2 separate regions of the Homo sapiens genome follow, and region 1 is linked to region 2. The links come from fine-mapping of genetic effects on gene expression. Tissue or cell type: putamen. Region 2 holds a variant in brackets; the other region holds the start of a gene. All regions are shown on one strand. Distances are from middle to middle.

Region 1 (4,398 bases), 29 kb after region 2:
TATCTTCCGCTTGACTTGAAACACGATGCCGCGGGTGATGCTCACTAGCTTCAGATGAAGGTGGTACCCTGTCTCTATTGCTGGAAGCTGGGCCCTTATTCACTGTGTACTCAACCTCTGAAGTCTCTTCATCACCTTCAAGAGTAGGACGTCCAAGTCCCTGGTTTTGTGAGGTTTGAGATGACTTGATGTTATCTACAGAGGAACATCCAGGAACTAGTGATGAAGTATCAAGTATCGGGTCAGAATTCTGGGCCTTATCTGTACCCACATCAACTTCTGCAATTGCTTTTTGCCTTAGCTTACAGTCTAAACTAACAGGGTTAAACAGTTCACTTTTTCTTCTAACTTCTTCACATTCTGCAATGGCAGCTTTCAGTTTGGCAAAAGAGTCAAAGATCTTTTTACCTTTGTCGGGCAATTTGCAAATGAATTTTCTGTCAAATGGAAAAGAATACTATTACATTACAGCCATTTTTTTAACTTGAGATATAACATTAAAAAGGCAAGGCATTATCTTCAAAGAAAGAAAAGCTGATTTTTAAGTCAAATATCTGATTTCTAACTGCCCCAAAACAAGAATAAAACAATTAAAATGGTCATTATCCAAATAGCCCAAAAAACAAGGGAATGCAGGAAGAATAGGGAATATATGCCTCATTTGTCTCAGCAAATTAGAATTTCAGCAAAAGTATTTTAAGCATATAATAATCACATAAGACATTCCAAGAACCAGCAGTCATTAAAGTGCAATCTCCAAAATTTGGGGATGGGGTGGAGTGTGGGGATGGGCCTATTAGGTCAAAACTACTTTCATAATAATACTAAGATATTATTTCCCTCTCATTTTCTCGCATGGGTACAGTGGAGTTTTCCAGAGGCTACATGGCATGTGATGACATCATTGTTCTAGAATAGAATGTGTGCTTGTGTATGCTTATGTTTTAAAGACTTCAGACGTATTTCTGATAAGTAAATACATTTCGCTAGATACAACACATAAAATAGCTCTTTGGGATGTCAATAATTCTTAAAGTATAACGGAGTCCTGAGACCAAAAAGTTAATTCACTGCTATACATTCAAAACCTATTCTCACAAGGTCAAAACACATGTCTTGATCCCAACCAATTATTTATTTGTCCCTTTTGCTGGATGACAGAGTTCCTTTTCTGATTCCCTTTTCTTTAACTATACAATAAATGGAAAGAAAAAATTACACCTTAAGTCCTCTGTTCTTTTTGACACTACATTCATCCCCACAATTTCAACTATTAACAACACTCTACAGCTGAAATTCCTGTTTTCTGTATTTTTCCAGGGTTCTCTCTTTCTTGAGCCTCATGACTACTTCTCCAGCTTTTAAGTGTTTGGTTTTCGATTAACCAAATGTCTGTCCTGCTCTCCTCTCAACTCTGCACACCCTAAGTAAAATCAACCTTGGATCTATTCCTCTCCCTGAATTTTCCTATTTTTGCTAGTGGTCTTCCATATAGATTGGAAACTTCAGCCATCTCTGTCAACTGCATTTAAATTAGTCCATGCTTAAAAGTTCTCCCAATCCCTTCCTAGCTCACTTTCTTACAAGTGTCTCGTGGGAAGTCTCTCTGAAAATATCCTTCTACTGTCTTCTGCTTTTTATTCCTTCAAACCATCTTTTGCAACAAGCTGCTGAACAAAGCTGCCTAAAAAACAAAATCACTTTTATTACGTGGCTCCCTTGCTAAAATCCGTTCAACCAGCCAGCTGAATGAGGGTCGAACTTTCCCGGCCTAATAAACCCCTCTTCATATCCCACTCTTCCCATTTCCTACGGTTCCTGTAAGCTTAGAATCCAGAGATGAAGCTGACAATCTGTTATGGGTTAGGGGTGCGGGCGACAAAAGGGTTTAGAAAGCAGACTCATGGAACCACCACAGTCCCCGGGTAAATAAAACCGACCAGGGGCTACTAACTCCCTGCAACGCCAGGTAGCCGTTCAATCCGAGCTATCCTCGCAGGCATACGTGCCTGGCCAGGAAGAGGCACGGCTCTGCCGCAGCAAGCCCTCCGTCCACTCGCCCGTAGGACTGAAGCGAATGTGACTGAGTCAAAGTCACCTTCCAGGGAAGGGAACAGAGTGCGGGAGGGGAGGGGAGCGCCCAGGGAGCTCGAGCTGAAGGAGCCTGGCGGAGACTCCGCGGGACCCCAGCTTACTCGTTGCGCAAAAGTCTCTCCTGGCGCTTCAACATTTCCCGCAGCTCCACCAAACTCCGCTGCGCCAAGTCCTCGGGAGCTTGGGGCTCGAAGCCGCGGGGCAGCGAGCACATTCTGCGCGGGCTGAGGCTGGCGCGGCGGCGGGCACTCGGCTTCCTCGGCAGGCCCCGCTACTAGCGCCGGATCCGCGGACGGCGGTGACTCCGGGGCACGAGCGGGAGTCGCCATTTTCCCGGAAGAACGGGGTCTTCTTCGAGCCGAATCGAGCTTTATTGAAATTCCGGAAACAAACACGGACTGGGAGAAGGGGGCGTCCGCAGGAGCGTTAAAGGGCGGAAGTTACGTCGGATGACGCCGGCTCCTTGGCTTGGCGCCCTTTCCCCTTGTGTGAGCATTCATGCGGTCATCAGCTGTTCGTCGGTTTATACAAAAAGTATTCAGCGCCAGCGTGACCTCACCAAGCACTATGTGTCAGTCAACAAATAGCAACGTCCTGTGTTATACTTGGGGTTTACAGAGTTGGCGGGGGGATGGGGGGAGGGAGAATCAAATTATGATATAATAGTAACGTTGGGATGGGCACCTGGGAAGATATCTCTGAGAAGTGGTTCAAGTCGAAACTTGAAAGATGAGCTGGCCATTAATAAGGTGGGAGAGAGTGCGGGACAGGATTTGGGAGACTCTGGCCTGTGCGTGGTGCCTCCGGCCTGTGCGTGGTGCCTCCTAGCTCAGCTTAGGGACGTCCTGAAATTGTTAAAGTTGGAAGGTTCCTCAGAATCAGCGATTTTTCTTGGGGCTCAATGCATTTGGAGAAGGACTTCATTTGTAGCACCGCCTCAAGCATTGTTAAGACATTTGGTGTTTCTGGCTTCTGCCTGCTAGGTGCTATGGCACTCCCAAGTCATTGCAACAATCCAAAATGTCTCCTCCAACATACATTTCCAAAGGCCCACAAGAGGTGATGAGGGAGTGGGAGCAGCTGTACAAACTCGTTGAGGACCTTTTCGAATTTTCTACTTTGCCTATAGAAAAACAGAGGCATGAAAACTGAAATAAATATTCCCAGGGCACAAAACCAGTAAGTGACAGCACCAGATTTCAAACTCAAAAGCCCAGCCCCTTTTCCAACACACCAATTTGAAAATCCCCTTCTTCACTTTAGGCCTATTTCCAAATGTGTAAAACTGTTGAAAAGACTTCCCTCCGCCCCCCCCCACCCCCGCCACCTCCCCAGCTGTTGAGAAGAAGGCAGCTTAATAGGTATTGGACACAGCTTTTACCTTCTCGTTATAGTTCAGCTACCAGAGGTGCATCCCAGTGGAAAGAGTAGGAAGACATGCAGTCACAGCAGATGTCACTTGGGAGGTTTGAACACCCCCATAACCCACCGCCCTCCCCCGATTTTTTGATATAGGAAATTGAAGTTGTCTCAATCCTGTGTAAGATGCTATATAAACACAAGCAGCTCTGTCCTAAAGAGACAGAAGATCTAGGTAAACTCCAAAGCTATTCCAGGGAGCACAATTGCAACCATTTATCTATCCCCCCAATCTGGTCCATTCTGATCAGATTCATTAATATATCAAAATAAGTTTTCTCTGTATAAGACTTGCTTTCAAGGACGTTAATAACGTGCTGCAGCATTGGCTGAATGAGAAATAGGTAAGGTCCTCGAGTCAGGTGGTTGTCTGTGGTACTGACAAAAAAAAAAAAAAAAGACTCCGTAAAATGTTGAAGAGATGTATTCTGTGCCAAATATGAGTGACCATGGCCCGTGACACAGCCCTCAGGAGATCCTGAGAACACGTGCCTAAGGTGGTTGGTGCACAGCTTGGTTTTATACATTTTAGGGAGACATGAGACATCAATCAAATACATTTAAGATAAACATTGGCTTAATCCACAAAGGTGGGACAACTCAAAGCAGAGCGGGTGTGGGGCAAGATGGGCTCCCAAGTTATAGGTAAATTTAAGTTTTTTTCTGATTGGTAATTGATTTAAAGGAATGTCTAGGTTAGCATAAGAACTTGTGGAGACCGAAATTTTATCATGCAGATGAAGCCTCCAGTTAGCAGGCTTCAGAGAAAGTAAGTTGTGTTTCTTATCAGACTCAAGGTATATGTGTTGATATTAAATGCTGTGTAGCTTTTCCTGGATTCTAAAAGAAAGAAGGGCATAATGAGGCATGTCTGACCTCAGCTTC
Region 2 (4,398 bases):
TGCGAACCCAGGAAGCGGAGCATGCAGTGAGCCGAGATCTCGCCACTGCACTCCAGCCTGGGCAACAGAGCAAGATTCCATCTCAAAATAATAATAATAATAATAATAATAATAATAAAATAAAAATAAAAAAATACCAACTCATCTACCCCTTCATTAGTGTAAAGAAAGCTAACATGAAACTGTCTGCAGAGGGGAGAAACCAATACAAAGCAAGCCAATTTACACCACTGAATCCTAGAAAGGTTCAGAGAGGGAGGCAGTGAGATCCTCTGTAAGTCAGACTGAGAGGCGGGCCAAAAATCCATAGGACTTGCTCATGATGTGCATGAAGTGTGGAGAGACCCCCACACCCGTTTGTCCAACCCCTGCAGCTGGTGAGAGAGACCAGAGAGGGGTGAACTCGAGGACACTCAGTAGACACTCAAGCATACACAAGGGTGCATGCTGAAGGAAGGGTGGGGCAATTTATCAGAAATAGGGGGATAGAATGAATGACTGCAAGCTGAATGGGAGAGTCCTAGCACCATCCCCCAAATGCTGGCAGCCAGGGACACACCCTAAAGGCAGGGGACTTTCCAAAGAACCTGATAGAGGGACAGATGCTGACACCTGAGGATCTCCTAAATAAAGGCTGGGTGCCCCCTCACTCCAGGCCCACCCACAGAACCTCCCCGCAACCTTTTAGTAATTCACCTGACAGCAAGGATAGAAGAGATTAGAAGAGAGCCTCTAACATGATAGAGACCAAAAGCAAATGGGGTGCAGGGGGCGGGGCAGGAAGGAAGCACTTGAAAGAAACAGATAATTCAAAGAGAGAATTTTTGAAAACTATAATGAATTAAAATATTACAGTAATTATCCAGGAGATCCAATACCTGACTAACAGAAGTTCCAACATGAGAAGACAGAAACTGGCAAGGAGTAAATTATCAACTAACTAATATAAGAAAAATTTTTCAGAAATTAAGACAGACTTTCCTAGATTAAAGGAGCCCAACAATCACCAGCTCTCCCCACATCTCCACAAAAAAGAAGGGGTGGAGGGTGCTCACACCAAAGTGATTGAGTGAGTTCTTCATGGAATTTTAATATCCTAGAGATTAAAAAGAAAAAAGACCTAAATGTTGAGTGCAGAAGAGAGAGGAAGAGTGAGAAAGGGGTGCGGGGAGTCACATGTAAAGGATATGGAATCAGAATGCCATTGAATTCCTCCATAACTCGAAGCTAAAAGACAGTAGAGTCATTAATGCATTCCAGATCCTAAGTGGGGGATGATTTCCTACTTAGAATTCTATACCCAGCCAAACTACAAATCAAATCATCAAACATACAAGGTATGGAAAAATTCGTCTCCCATGCTGCCTTTTTGCAACTTTCATATTTGCTGAAAAATGTGTTTTCTCAACATTGGAGAGAAAAATGAGAAAGATGAAGACATGAGATCCAGAAAGCAGATCATATACAGGAGTGTGGTAAAGAGAATTCCTTGGGTCAGAGTGAAGGGAAATCTCAGAATGACAGAGTGTGGTAGATCACTAGACCCATCGGGCCAGAATGCAGAAGGACGGAGAACTCCAGCAGGGAAGCCTCCAAGTCAAAGAGAATGGAATAATAGTTTGTTTGACTCATTTGACAATACAGAAAGGAGCTCTATGCTTCTGTTGGAAAATTTGAGACTTCATTTTTAGACACATAGAAAATTAAACAAACAAAGTGATTATAGATTCCAAAGCAAACTCAAGTCATGTAAAGAAGGAAACTCACTACACTTTGAAAATATTAATAAAAATATTATTTATAGTCATTATAATATAAACACTGAATATTTAATTTAAAATAGAAAGGATGAAGGGAGTGGAAGTGTAAGAGAATGGGAATGGATGAAGTATAAGACCTAAACCACACTCTTCATCCAGTAGATAATGTCTATCTTAGAAATGAAACAATAGTACTATAAGCACATTATTTATAAATCTGGAGATAAATCACTGAGAAATAACTAAAGTAGTTGCTTTAGGGATGGAATGAGACTGAGAAGAGGATTTCTGTTTTTCCTCATAAGACTTCTAGTTCTATGTGACTTTTTATATTATATACATGTATTTCCTTAATGTAGGTCCTAATAAGTGTTTTGCATTTAGTAGGGGCTCAGTGAACACTAGCTACTATTATCAAATTATAGATTTGATAGTGGATGAATAGAAACATTGTGGCTTGCCTAAAGCTTCCTTCCCCTGAAACTGTCAGAAGCAGAACTAGGGCTTCTTTA[T/A]TCAAAGCATTTTAAAAGGGCATCTTTGTCAGACCCAAGCATGAGGCAGTCCCGGTCCATAAGTGTCATTCTATTCAGGGACTGGGAGGAAAAGCACGAGTGTACATAACTATTTCACAAAGGATACCCTGGCAAGCACCAAGTAACGAGAGTTATCTAGCCAGTCTCTAACCATTATGTCCCTCTCATGTCCCATTCTCAATGCCAGAGCGGATCATAAATATTAAGGACTACCTGCCGCAGATGCTAACTTTTAACATGTGAGCGTTTAGGCTCTCGGGAGGTAATATACGCAATTCATCACGGTTCACTTTCCTTTCTTATTTTCAATCTCTAGAGAAAAGCCTGTATTCATATTAGAAAATTTACAATAGCAATCAACAGGCCCATCCGAGTAGCTTTGGTCACTGACTGCCTAGCTATATTTACTTCCACCAGGTTTTTTATAAAGTTTGGCTGTCTTGAAGCATTACCAGCACGCCATCCTTCTGGTGTCTTCCTGGCTAAATGATGGTCAAACTGCTCCAAACAATCAGAGTTTGGTAAGAAGAGCCAGGGAGCCCATCTTCCCGCTTTTACTACCACGGGTGTCCTTAGCTGCGGCTGCCAAGCTGAGCAAGTTCATGGAACTGCGGTACTGAGGGCTGTAAAACGGTCTTTCCTGAAAATAAAGTAACAAAAAATCAAGCTCAGCTGGATTCTGATTTAATAGTATCTGGCAAGCTAACTATATTATTTTTGAACACACAGACATAAATTTGATATGAATAATAAAACTGAAGTATAATATGGACAAAGGAAATATAAAATTCGCCTAATCTTCAAAAGAAATTCTATACTTGAATAATTATGCTCTATTTATAAAACTAGAATAATTGAAAACAGGATTTTCAGTTGATTCATATAGCCTCTGAAATATTTATTATTGCAAGTCGAAAAGATCTGTCTGGGATTTGTCACTGAAAATGTCTAAACTCAGTGTCCAGATGTTTATTTAAGTTGCTCCCACAGAGTTCTAATGTCAATACTAGGGGTTATCAGAGAGCATCGCTGTGTATCTTCCTTGACTAATATTCTCATTTCTTTTGCATCTTTGATGTTTTCTTTCATTAAAATTCCTGGCCCATATCCACAAAAATCTGCTAGGCTTGCATAAAAAATGAGTCTGCAGACTTGACATTTGATGATGCCCTGTGTGTTCACAAAGATAATATTTATCAGCAGCTATCACTTAGACATTACAACCAGCAGCATTGAGTCAATTTAAGAGAATAAAAAAGAATACAGAATCCAGATTTTAGAGTGTCTTACTTGCAGATTCCAACTTCCTGCCTATTCTTTTCTCCTAATGTTATGTAAGGCAAAGTTAGAATCAGCAATGGGATTTTTCACCATGGCCCATGTGCATTCTCTCCCCTCCCTCTCTGTCATGTACCCTGTCTTCTTTTGCAAACCTAAAGTAAAATGACTTTAAAGTAAAGGAAACCAGGCCCTCTGTCAAAACTCACTTCCTAAAGTTTCTGCAGAGTAAGACACCTGGGAGAACATTCTAAAGATAGATTATATGATGTCCTTTTCCTTCGTGTGAAAGTGGCAAAAGACAACACGATTGTATTTTTTAGCGAACCAGATGGGGATTTTTTTCATCAGCTGCACAAAAGAAAGCATGTACTAAAAGTTTCTCCTTTCCAAAACCAAATGAATTTTATCCAAATTGTTAAAGTACCTAGAACCCAAAAAAAGGGGGGACATGAATAAATGAAATTTGCATAAACATTCAAAAGAGCCCAGTGCATCTGAAGGTTGGTCCAAGCTACGATCAGATGGGGAGTTAAGACCAGCAAGGGGTCAACACTATTTATCCTCTGCTGTTCACCATGTTAATTAAAAAGAATTAAATCTGTTTTGAACTCCAATATAAAGTGAAGAAAAAGTTTGCTACAAATGTGAAAAACCACTAATGATACAACACAGTATCTTCTGGAAACTGTGAACAGATTAATTAGAAGATGTAACCTACAGGAAAATCTCCTGTTTACTTGATTAAATCATAAAATTCACAGACTCATGTAATACAGCCAGAGAGGTGGCTTCCTAGCGCAAAGTAGTCATTCAATAAATGTTTA

Direction of the effects. Alleles are on the strand shown, and positions count from the first base shown. SD is a standard deviation of normalised expression in the study named.
For the expression in putamen of the gene that starts at base 2,437 in region 1, A is the low allele of the variant in region 2 and T is the other (small effect, 0.19 SD a copy in GTEx).

The links. PIP is the estimated chance that this variant, and not a neighbour inherited with it, causes the effect.
Region 1: it holds the start of POLR2M, and the variant in region 2 is fine-mapped to the expression of POLR2M in putamen (GTEx, PIP 0.99).

Annotation. Positions count from the first base shown.
Region 1 is chr15:57,704,753-57,709,150 of GRCh38, reverse strand. POLR2M (RNA polymerase II subunit M) reads right to left here and starts at 2,437. Exons shown (of 4, transcript NM_015532.5): 1 at 2,196-2,437; 2 at 1-437. The coding sequence starts at 2,308. GCOM1 (GCOM1, MYZAP-POLR2M combined locus) reads right to left here. Exons shown (of 17, transcript NR_104371.3): 14 at 2,779-3,217; 15 at 1-437. RefSeq lists a silencer at 1,953-2,002 and an enhancer at 2,323-2,542.
Region 2 is chr15:57,734,002-57,738,399 of GRCh38, reverse strand. It overlaps LOC105370834 (a long non-coding RNA gene), which reads right to left. Exons shown (of 6, transcript XR_001751554.3): 2 at 2,746-2,933. Among named protein-coding and RNA genes, the nearest start is that of POLR2M, 29 kb to the right of the region's middle. The variant T/A (reference allele first, on the strand shown) is at 2,273.